Linked DNA regions of Homo sapiens. The protein of the gene in region 1 purifies or fractionates together with the protein of each later gene. This does not show direct contact. Each region holds a gene or a part of one and is shown in the gene's direction. Other genes may lie near its edges.

What was found. Proteins that work in one complex are often made in the same cells at the same time.
Region 2: the proteins of BTBD9 (region 1) and SHPK purify together in Homo sapiens (affinity purification with mass spectrometry; one large-scale study listed by BioGRID and IntAct). This does not show direct contact.
Region 3: the proteins of BTBD9 (region 1) and DHCR24 purify together in Homo sapiens (co-immunoprecipitation; one large-scale study listed by IntAct). This does not show direct contact.

The regions. Positions count from the first base shown.
Region 1 is NC_000006.12:38,167,131-38,171,440, reverse strand, and holds the end of BTBD9 (BTB/POZ domain-containing protein 9), read left to right. Parts: 3' UTR 1-2,990; downstream 2,991-4,310.
Region 2 is NC_000017.11:3,622,751-3,626,250, reverse strand, and holds part of SHPK (sedoheptulokinase), read left to right. Parts: intron 1-2,019; coding exon 2,020-2,203; intron 2,204-2,759; coding exon 2,760-2,912; intron 2,913-3,500. UniProt on the Homo sapiens protein: Acts as a modulator of macrophage activation through control of glucose metabolism.
Region 3 is NC_000001.11:54,849,196-54,852,695, reverse strand, and holds the end of DHCR24 (delta(24)-sterol reductase precursor), read left to right. Parts: intron 1-309; coding exon 310-463; 3' UTR 464-3,069; downstream 3,070-3,500. UniProt on the Homo sapiens protein: Catalyzes the reduction of the delta-24 double bond of sterol intermediates during cholesterol biosynthesis.

The DNA.
Region 1 (4,310 bases):
TAAATCCTATTAAATGAAGTGTCGATTCCTGACAAATACATTAAAAGTGTTTTATTCCTAGAAGAGTTGGGAAAAGAAATTATTTTCAGCAAGAGTAGGATGTTTGTTAAACTGATTCCTTGGCAAAAAAGAGAAAAAAAGCTTTTGAATTGTGCAAAAAATTGCCCAGTATTATGCTGTCGCCCCAGTTGTCAAACTGCTGTGCAGATGGCTCCAGCCCAGTCAACTTCACCTTCTTTTTAATTTAGAAGATAACAAAATTGTAATCACTTATCCTTTCCAGAGCCAAGGGGGAAAAGGAAGGTATAATCTACAATAAAAAGCGAGCGTTCTGTGTACTGAGGCCACTTGGTGATAAAGAGATGGAGCGCTCCCCTCACAGACTTCAATTAAGAACCTCCCTTTGGACAGGGAAGAAAGGTGTCAAAGAGGAAAAGAAAATTAAATTTGCTTCCTTCCAGGAGTTTTTCCTCATTAGTGCTTGCTTGTCGGTGTTATTATTTTAATCTTACCTTCTATGTGGTGACCAGCTCCTCCGAGCGATGCCCAGGTCGGGCACGGCCCGGGCAGGGCAGGTCTGCAGCGATGCCGTGGCAGAGGTGGGCATACTCCATTTGTTTTGGCAGCTGCAGCCATTGATTCTGCATATTTTTCCTGACAACAGCCCCGGCAGGAGTTCAGTTAGGAATTTAAAGTGCAGTTCATGGTTCTGTGCCACCGTGGCTTTTATTATTATAATATTAAATTAGAAGTTGTCCTAGTGCCTGGTGTTTGCTCAGAGTTTCCAGAAGAGAGGGAAGGGCAAGGTTTAAATGGCATGCAGGACAACTGGAATGCCCCCATCTCTCTCGCTGACACGGATCCAGTCATACCTGGGGCTGGACGGGATTTGGAGGCCCTGGTCATTTGCAGAGTGAATGGTGAAGGGCGCGGAAAAGGTTTGCTTGGAGGAAAGACCGGTTGCAGAGGCGAGGCGGAGGGAGGAGGGGCGGAGGCAGCAGGTCTTTGTTTGTGGTAGGTCTCTGGCTTCCATCAGGGAGGAGGAAAGAGGCTGTGCCCTTCCTGGCTCTTGGCTGCACCACTGAGGACGCTCCGAGGGACAGCGTGCTCACCCATCCTTTGCACAGTGCTGGCCCCAAGCCCCACGGCCTTCCAGCTAGGATTTTCTGCTGGGCTCATGCAGAGGCAGGGGACAGGTGCATGGAAGAGCCGCCCCACCCGACACACCATTGTTTGAAAATCACTGTTCTCTTTACTCACTTAAAAAAGTGTACAGGGAACACCTGTTCCTGGCATAATGCTCCAACCTCGCGGAAGGGGCCAGGTGCCCTTCATCTGGCTCTGGCTGCTTCCGACCTGGGCCCACGTCATCGTTCACGTCCTCTGTGACCACCACTGGTCACGGTGCTCCCTGGCCCAGCCTCCAACCCACCCAGCACCCTGGCATCTCCCAGGCCAGTCTGCTGCACCCAGCGAGCTTCCAGTCAGAAGCCAGGCTGAACGGCCCTCCTGCCCCATCAGCTTCGTGTCTTCTTTTTTTTAAAGAACTGAAATAGTCCCCAAGAGGCCTCATGGCCTGAAGACTCACAATCATCCACCTGTAATTTATGATAAATGTCTGGGAGCATTTACCATTTGCGTCCGTGAGTATTTATAGCCCTGAATGGGCGGGGGGGAGGGGGGGTGGAGGAGGCCCTGCAGCCAGGAGCTACACACCTGTCCCCACTAGTGTCCCCTGGTTGACAGAGCCCCCTCAGCCTCCCCAAGGCTGTCACTGCGGCTGTGACAGCTGAGGAGTGCCGCCTTTGAAAGCCAGTGGACAGTCGCTCCACTAGGGGGAGAGGCCCTGGCCCTGGCGCAGAGGAGGCGTTGCGAGGCGGGACGGGGGCTGGAGGGGCTGAGCAGCCTTCAGGGCAGGGACTGGGCCCTGGGTCACTGGAGACGTTGATATTAGTCCGTCTGCTGCCAAATTGCTCCCCACCACATGAGCCCCAGGGGTTTATGTCCCAGGAAGGCGAGGGTGCCCATCTGAGCGGAATTGGGAGGGGACGGCACCAGCTCATCTCCCTCAGGGCCTTTGCCTCCTGGTGCTGCCCTGGTGGCTGCTCCTGCACCACAGCCCCTGATGGCTGCTGCTAGTCCTGAGTTGCTGGGTTTACCCCCAGCCCACACTTCCCACCTGGGCCTGAGGGTGCGGCCAGTGCCCTAGTCCTAGCCACTACAGGAGTCATTCTGAGACCTGCTGGAGGCCATGGGGTCTTCCCAGGCCCCTCAATCAGCTGCTTCCAGGGTCAGCAGGGCAGGGTGCTGCCAGTAAGGTCCTCAGGGAGCACAGCCCGGCCGCCCAGGCTGGGGGATACTGGGGCAGAGCTTCCAGGTCTGTGGGGCCTGATCTCTCCCCAAGGCTCTCCAGGCCTTGGTGCGCCCTCCACAGTGACCTTCAGAGAGGCTGCACCCCCTCAGAAGAACAGTGAGAAATCTCTCCATCACACGCTCCCTGGTCCTTATGTCCCTGAGGCCACCCTTCCCCACCCCCCAGTGCCTGGAGAAGCGTGAGACTCTGGAGGGGCGCCAGGAGGCCAGGGGTCCTCAGGGCTAGGCCTGGAGCTCGGCCCAAGAGCTGCTTTTGCGAAGCCTGTCTTGAATCCGGATTCACCAGAGAACAAGAGCCTCCCAGCCTTTGGCGTTTCTGGGCCTGTAAAGATGTGTGTACCTCCCAGGCCACTCTGATGCAAGGGCAGGGACCATGCCAGGCCTGGGTTGGGAATGGCTCTGTGACTCCAGAAGCTCCGTCTAAAACTCCAAAGATGCCCAAAAGGCTGTGCTGCTATGTGGAATGTGTATTATTTGTGAGCACGATGCGGCTTCTTCCTCATTTTGCAGAGCAACCTAAGCGGGCAGATGTACAAACCGTGTGTTCGAAACCCCTGAGTCCATGTGTGTGAAAATGCAGGTTTTCTCTTAGAAATAAAGTGGTGACTTGTGCTGTATTCGAGTCGTCACTCTCTGCAGCAACCCCTCTCGATGCCCAGGGACAAGCAGGGGGCCCAGGCCAGGGTCAGCCCCTCTGCCCCAGTGCCCTCATATGGACACTGCCATCCGGCCCTCTCTGCAGGCCCAGGCACTCAGGGGTGTCCACCCAGGCCCCCGCTCGCTTCCTCTGCCTTGTGGAGGGAGGCAGACAGCCCTGGAGCAAAGCAGGCACAGAGAGGCCGGCTTGCTCCAGGGCGGCGGCGTGGGCAGATCCAGCGGATTTGGGCCAGCACTGTCACCGGCTCTGAGGGCCTTCCCTCAGGGTGGAGGGGCTGTCCAGCTCCCTCCCACCTCCTGTGGCACTCTCTCCACCCCACCCCATGGCCTATTCGATGCCATTTTTGGGGGGTTAGGAAACACCACCTTGAACCCAGTCCCCTTCCCTTGTCATTTCTCCTCCTCTGAGCTTAGCCCCAGCTGCTTTCTTCCTCATGTCTTGCTTCTTCTACCTGATGAGCCCGTGAGTATTTGGTAGCAACTTCCCCCATTTATCTTGCTTCCCAGGGGAGATGCGGGGAAGGGAACCAGTGAGCCAGGAGGCGGCCCCTTGCAGGCGCTGCCGCTCTCCCTGGCCCCAATCTCGAGTCCTGGGTGTGTGAACTCAGTGTTGCAGGCCCTGCCGTCTGGGATCCAGTGCCCTCTCCTGTGACCCCACAACTGGGCCTGAGTCTCCAGCAACTCCGCTGGTGCATGTGGGGCCCAAGGCTCCATGCGCTGAACATGAGGGACCCCGGCCACCTGGAGCCTTGGCCTCCTCCTGAGCTGTTGTCACGTGGAAACCAGGCAGGGGTCTGCTCCTCTCAGTGGAATTTTTTCTTGGAACCTGCACTAGGGACTCTCCATGTTTTTGGTTAACTTCCACCTGGTGGCTTTGGCCGAGCACTGGGGCTCCAAGTCAGGTGCTCCATTTCCAAACCATGCAGGCATCCTTTCGGGAGCACACCCACCTAGCTTCGATCTTCCAGAACTGACAACTTGTTGCCAATAATTGGCTGACGTGAGTGTTGAACAAGACAAAACCCAATCCAGAGAGCACTGGGCTTTGTCCTGCCACCGCCCCGCCCAGGCCACTGTACCCCCCCACCACCCCCCCATGCCGCCTGCCTCCCAAGTGCTGGGGATGGAGCAGGGAGGCTGCCCCTCTTGCCCTCCCTCACCTTCCAGGGAGCAGACACCAGCGTCAGTGTGAATGTGGCCCAGCCCATGTGCAGAGGGAGAGGATGCCGGGCTGGGCGTGCATGTTGAAGTCCGTGGCCCAGAGAGGCTTCCAGAGAAGG
Region 2 (3,500 bases), on another chromosome or scaffold:
GATAAAGACAACCCCCAGCTAGATATATTCTAGTGAACTTTTAAGGATTTCAAAGACAGAATTCCAAAAGCTTACAGAGCAAAAGATCAGATCCCATATGAAAGAATAAGGATCAGATTGACATTAGATTTTTTTCAACAGCAGCATTCTGTGTGAAAAGACAATGGAGTAGCATTTTTTTGTTTGTTTTGTTTTTCTGAGATGGAGCCTCACTCTGTTGCCCAGGCTGGAGTGCAGTGGTGCGATCTCAGCTCACTGCAACCTCCGCCTACTGGGTTCAAGCGATTCTCCTGCCTCAGCCTCCGGAGTAGCTGGGATTACAGGCACCCGCTACCACACCTGGCTAATTTTTGTATTTTTTGTAGAGATGGGGTTTCGCCATGTTGTCCAGGCTGGTCTCGAACTCCTCACCTCAGGTGATCCGCCCACCTTGGCCTCCCGAAGTGCTGGGATTATAGGCGTGAGCCACCGTGCCTGACCAGGAGTAGTATTTTGATGACCTATTGCGGCACAACAAACTACCTCCAACCTAGTGACTGAAAGCAACAAGCATTTATCATCTGTCATGATTTTTTGGGTCAGGGGTTGGGCAGGGCTCAGCCCACTGCTGCTTCTGCATGGTGGTGGTGGAGGTTGCTTGTTAGTGTTCAACTGGTGGACAGACTGGTCCAGGGGGTCACGGTGGCTTTACTCAATGCCTGGTACCTTGGTGGGAAGGCTGGAGGCTGGGCTCACCTGGAAACGGTCTGCCGGCTGCTCTTTGCCCGTGGTCTCCTCAGCATGGCGGCCTCGGCGTAGTCGCACTTCTTACCTGAAGGCTGATTCCCCCAGAGAGACTGGTGTAAGAGGCTTGGGCGGGAGCTGCAGTACTTCTTATGACCTAGCCTTGGGAGTCCCAAGATGTGACTGCCTCCACATTCTCCTGGTCAAGCACGTCACCAAGGTGATTCTATATTCAAGGAAAGAGGATTCAGATGCCACCTCTTAATGGGAGGAGTAGTGAAGAATTTGCAACAATCGACCACAAAAAGTGCTTTTAAGCATTGAAGGGAAGGAACTTAGAACCAGACTATTATAACTAATCAAACTGGCATTTAAAGATGGGAACATGAGAAATATTTGGTGGCATCTGGGCCTTCAGACACTGCCTGGAAAGACTGACACTGAAATTGGCCTTGGGAGAAATCACTGAATAAGGGCAGAGAAAAATCCAGAGGATGTCACAAGGCACAAATGAAAAAAAATCTGACGGTCAGATGATTTTAAAGTAAATTTGGATGTCTAAAAATCAATCAGGGCCAGGTGCGGTGGCTCATGCCTGTAATCCTAGCACTTTGGGAGGCTGAGGTGGGTGGATTGCCTGAGCTCAGGAGTTCGAGACCAGCCTGGGCAGCATGATGAAACCCTGTCTCTACTGAAAGTCCAAAAAATTAGCTGGGCGTGGTGGCGTGGGCCTGTAGTCTCAGCTACTCGGGAGGCTGAAGCAGGAGAATCGCTTGAACCTGGGAGATGGAGGTTGCAGTGAGCCGGGATCATGCCACTGCATTCCAACCTGGGGGACACAATGAGACTCTGTCTGAAAAAATTAAAATAAAATAAAATAAAATAAAACGCAATCAGCTAAGAACTAAGGAAAAGAGAAAATTTACTGGTAATCAAGTAGCAGTAAGCCTAGATAATGTCATGATGAGGGTTGGAGGGACAGAGACCAGGGGACTTGAGATTGTGCCAAACATCTTCTGAGATGTGGGGAGATATGATATCAACTTCAAAAAAGAATAAAAACAAACAGAGAAGTGGGGCAAATGGAGGGAGTATGTGACGTGCCCAGGGTCCCACAGTCATTATGTGGTAGAGCCAAGTACTAAAGCCAGTGCTATCAGGACCCATAGGTGTGCCAGGCTTTATCATGGGACGATTCGCACATATTTTGTCACTCACCAGCAGAGTAGTATCAAGGCCGCGCCATGCCTAGTCATTTGCTCTTTTCTTCATTTTTGGTCATCTCTTTTGTTCCAGGCTGTGAATGGACAGAGGGAGGGATTACCCCGGTGTTCGAGCCCCGAGCTGTTAGCCACCTGGTCACGTGGCAGGATGGCCGATGTAGCAGCGAATTCCTGGCCTCTCTGCCCCAGCCGAAGTCTCATCTCAGTGTGGCCACGGGCTTCGGCTGTGCAACCATCTTCTGGCTTTTGAAATATCGGTACGGGCAACTGCACTTTCACTCGGGTGCTGGGTTTCCGGGAGAATGAGAATAGGCCGGGGCTGCGTCAGCATCACCCCGCCTGCTGGGCTGTGCCGCAGTGAGTGTGTCCTGGCAGGACAGGATGCAGCATGGCCTGGACCTCGATTGGGTCCAGAACCACGTCCTTTTGCAGAGGGCTCTCTATTGGTTATCCAGTTCCCACCCACATAGGGAAAGGAGGGAACAGAGAGGGCAAGTGACTTGCCGAGGGTCACGGGGAGAGTTCGCAGTGTGTTCAGGCCTGCGAGGCTGCTGAGGAGGCTGACGTCTGCTTTTCCAGGCTTGACACTTCCTCCTCTCAGGCCCTTCCCCTGGGGCTGACTTAGGCTGGCTTTGCTTGGGGCAGCTGGGAGGTCCTAATCCCAGGGACCCAGCTGGACTTGAGCCATAGTATATGCGGTTGTGGCTGCCACCTGGCCATGGCACAGCTGGTCCCTGCTGCCTGCAGCTAGGTGCGGCACATGCTTCCGAGTTCATGTTATACCGTGTTGGTTGTTTTTGGTATGAAAAACAGCCCAGAGTTCCTGAAGTCCTACGACGCAGCCGGTACCATCCACGACTATGTGGTTGCCATGCTGTGTGGCTTGCCAAGACCTCTGATGTCCGACCAGAATGCTGCCAGCTGGGGCTATTTCAACACGCAGAGCCAAAGCTGGAACGTAGAGACGTGAGTATCACATCCTTGCAGGCTGTTCCTCCTGCTCCAATCTGAAGGGCAACCCCGGAGCCAGTGCTTCAGTGGGTGCTTTCCCATCTGGGAGTGGTGGAGGGTTCCCAGAGGCCAGGATCAGGGTCCAGTGCCCCTGGCCTGTCCCAGACACGGGGCATGGATGGGCCCAGTGTAAGCACAGCCCTGAGCCCTTGGGTAGGGGCCTCAGCCATGCTGTCCTGCTCCTCCACAGCCGCCCAGACCCCAGGTGGGCTCTCCCTTCTCTGTGACCATGAGCCCAGTCTGTAGGTTTCAGAGTACAGCTTTCACTCTTTAATACTTAAACTTAGAGAGCCAGGCGCGGTGGCTCATGCCTGTAATCCCAGCACTTTGGGAGGCTGAGGCGGGTGAATCACCTGAGGTCAGGAGTTCGAGACCAGCCTGGGCAACATGGCGAAACCCCATCTCTACTAAAAATACAAAAATTAGCTGGGCGTGGTGGAGTGCGCCTGTAATCCCAGCTACTCTGGAGGCTGAGGCAGGAGAATCACTTGAACCTGGGAGGCGGAGGTTGCGGTGAGCCGAGATTGCACCACGGCACTCCAG
Region 3 (3,500 bases), on another chromosome or scaffold:
CAACCCCACTGCTCCATTAGGGAAGGCAGCTGTGCCTCTGGCCAAGCAGAGGGGCAGAAGCCCAGCAGTCTGAGCTCTACTCCTGACTCTACCTCCACTGCTAAGCTACCTAACCCCCAAGCCCCAATTCCCTACCTGCAAAAGGGGGATAAGAATACCTGCACCATCTTCTTCACCAGGTTAACGGGGTTAAACAAGAGAAATCCTCCAAAAGCCTTTTCTGGGCTGCAGAATGAGCAGTTGGGTTTCTCTCACGCCTCGCGTTCCGTGTGCCTCCTGGCGTCCTCACCCACTTCTCTGCCTCTGCAGCTTCCAGATGCTGTATGCCGACTGCTACATGAACCGGGAGGAGTTCTGGGAGATGTTTGATGGCTCCTTGTACCACAAGCTGCGAGAGAAGCTGGGTTGCCAGGACGCCTTCCCCGAGGTGTACGACAAGATCTGCAAGGCCGCCAGGCACTGAGCTGGAGCCCGCCTGGAGAGACAGACACGTGTGAGTGGTCAGGCATCTTCCCTTCACTCAAGCTTGGCTGCTTTCCTAGATCCACACTTTCAAAGAGAAACCCCTCCAGAACTCCCACCCTGACAGCCCAACACCACCTTCCTCCTGGCTTCCAGGGGGCAGCCCAGTGGAATGGAAAGAATGTGGGATTTGGAGTCAGACAAGCCTGAGTCCAGTTCCCCGTTTAGAACTCATTAGCTGTGTGACTCTGGGTGAGTCCCTTAACCCCTCTGAGCCCGGGTCTCTTCATTAGTTGAAAGGGATAGTAATACCTACTTGCAGGTTGTTGTCATCTGAGTTGAGCACTGGTCACATTGAAGGTGCTGGGTAAGTGGTAGCTCTTGTTGCTTCCCGTTCAGCGTCACATCTGCAGTGGAGCCTGAAAAGGCTCCACATTAGGTCACCTGTGCACAGCCATGGCTGGAATGATGAAGGGGATACGCTGGAGTTGCCCTGCCATCGCCTCCATCAGCCAGACGAGGTCCTCACAGGAGAAGGACAGCTCTTCCCCACCCTGGGATCTCAGGAGGGCAGCCACGGAGTGGGGAGGCCCCAGATGCGCTGTGCCAAAGCCAGGTCCGAGGCCAAAGTTCTCCCTGCCATCCTTGGTGCCGTCCTGCCCCTTCCTCCTTCATGCCTGGGCCTGCAGGCCCACCCCAGCCACCACTGAGTCCACTCGGAGTGCCCTGTGTTCCTGGAGAAGGCATTCCAGGGTTGAATCTTGTCCCAGCCTCAGCCTGGGACACCTAGGTGGAGAGAGTGGTCTCCGCTCTGAATTGGATCCAGGGGACCTGGGCTCATTCTTCTTGGCTCACCAACCCTGCAGGCCTCATCTTTCCCAAAACCCACTTTGTCTTGGTGGGAGTGGGTCCGCGCTGCTCTGCAGCAGGGGCTGGGGAGTGGACAGCATCAGGTGGGAAAGTGGAGTCCACCCTCATGTTTCTGTAGGATTCTCACCGTGGGGCTGGAAGAAAAGAGCATCGACTTGATTTCTCCAACCACTCATCCCTCTTTTTCTTTCTTCCACCACTCCCCACCCCAGCTGTAGTTAATTTCAGTGCCTTACAAATCCTAAGCTCAGAGAAAGTTCCATTTCCGTTCCAGAGGGAAGGGAACCTCCCTAGGTCCTTCCCTGGCTTGTTATAACGCAAAGCTTGGTTGTTTATGCAACTCTATCTTAAGAACTGCCCAGCCTCAGCTGAAAACCCGAATCTGAGAAGGAATTGCGTCATGTAAGGGAAGCTGGAATTAAGGGAGCTGAGCCAGTCATGGTTGTGGCGTGTGAGTCAGGAGACCTAGGTTTCAGCCCCTCTCTACTGTCAGCGAGCTGTGCAACGTGGGCAAGTCATTGTCCTCTGAGCTGCAGTTTCCTCATCTGTCACATCGCTACAGACAAGACCTCCCTGGAACCCTTCTGATTGTCTTAGACACTGTGGTTGCAAAACCCACGGAAAGCCTCATTTGTGTGGAAAGTCAGAGGAAAAATGATCCAGTGGACACTTGGGGATTATCTGTCATTCAAGATCCTTCCTTCAACCCCAAGGTCAGCTCCCATCTCATTTCCAGAAAGGCTCATACCTGGCTTGCAGGGAAGCATCTGTCTTGTCATTCCAGGTGCCAGAATCCTCTCAGAGTCATTGAAGGGTGTTCACCCATCCCACCCAAGGCTTGGCACACTGCCAGTGTCTTAGCAGGGTCTTGTGAGGGCTGGGGGCATCCAGGCACTCAGAAGGCAAAGGAACCACCCTACCCATTTGGCCTCTGGAGGGGGCAGAAGAAAGAAATAAACCTCATCCTATATTTTACAAAGCATGTGAATTCTGGCATTAGCTCTCATAGGAGACCCATGTGCTTCCTTGCTCAGTGCAAAACTGATGATTCTACTTGCTGTAGATGAATGGTTAACACGAGCTAGTTAAACAGTGCCATTGTTTTGCCAGTGAAGCCTCCAACCCTAAGCCACTGGGACGGTGGCCAGAGATGCCAGCAGCCTCTGTCGCCCTTAGTCATATAACCAAAATCCAGACCTTATCCACAACCCGGGGCTTGGAAAGGAAGGTATTTTGGAATCACACCCTCCGGTTATGTTGCTCCAGTAAAATCTTGCCTGGAAAGAGGCAGTCTTCTTAGCATGGTGAGCTGAGTTCATGGCTTTTTTTTGTAGCCAGTCCTGTCCCTGGCCATCCATGTGATGGTTTTGGATGGAGTTAAACTTGATGCCAGTGGGCAGTGCATGTGGAAAGTATCAGAGTAAGGCTCTCCCCTCCAGAGCCCTGAGTTTCTTGGCTGCATGAAGGTTTTCTTTAGAATCAGAATTGTAGCCAGTTTCTTTGGCCAGAAGGATGAATACTTGGATATTACTGAAAGGGAGGGGTGGAGATGGGTGTGGCAGTGTATGGTGTGTGATTTTTATTTTCTTCTTTGGTCATGGGGGCCAAGGAGAAAGGCATGAATCTTCCCTGTCAGGCTCTTACAGCCACAGGCACTGTGTCTACTGTCTGGAAGACATGTCCCCATGGCTGTGGGGCCGCTGCTTCTGTTTAAATAAAAGTGGCCTGGAAGCTGGCGTTTGTCGTTTCTTGCTTGGGGGACCAAAATGTGGAGTCAGATCTGGGCTCGGGTGCAGGCTGTGCCATTCCCCAACTCAGTTGCTCTCACTGAACCCATGAGCCCATGGCCGAGGGCTAGAAGAACATGCAGGAACTGACAGGTTTATTTCTATCACTGTCAGAGTGTGATTGGAGTAAGTGTTGAAAGGATCCCTCTGTGTGCAGGGTGGCAAGCAGACCAGTGAGAAGGCCACCACTGCAGTCCAGGTGAGACGATGGTGGCTCTGGTTAGGGTGGAGGCCTGGCTTTGTCACTTGGTTGTGACCAATTAATTTTAGCAAGTTAATCCTGTTGAGACTGTTGTCCTCATCTACAAACTAGTGGACCCACTAGCTGTCCATTAAAATGCATTCCTCCATTCTTTGGACACATAGCTAGACTACCTTTCC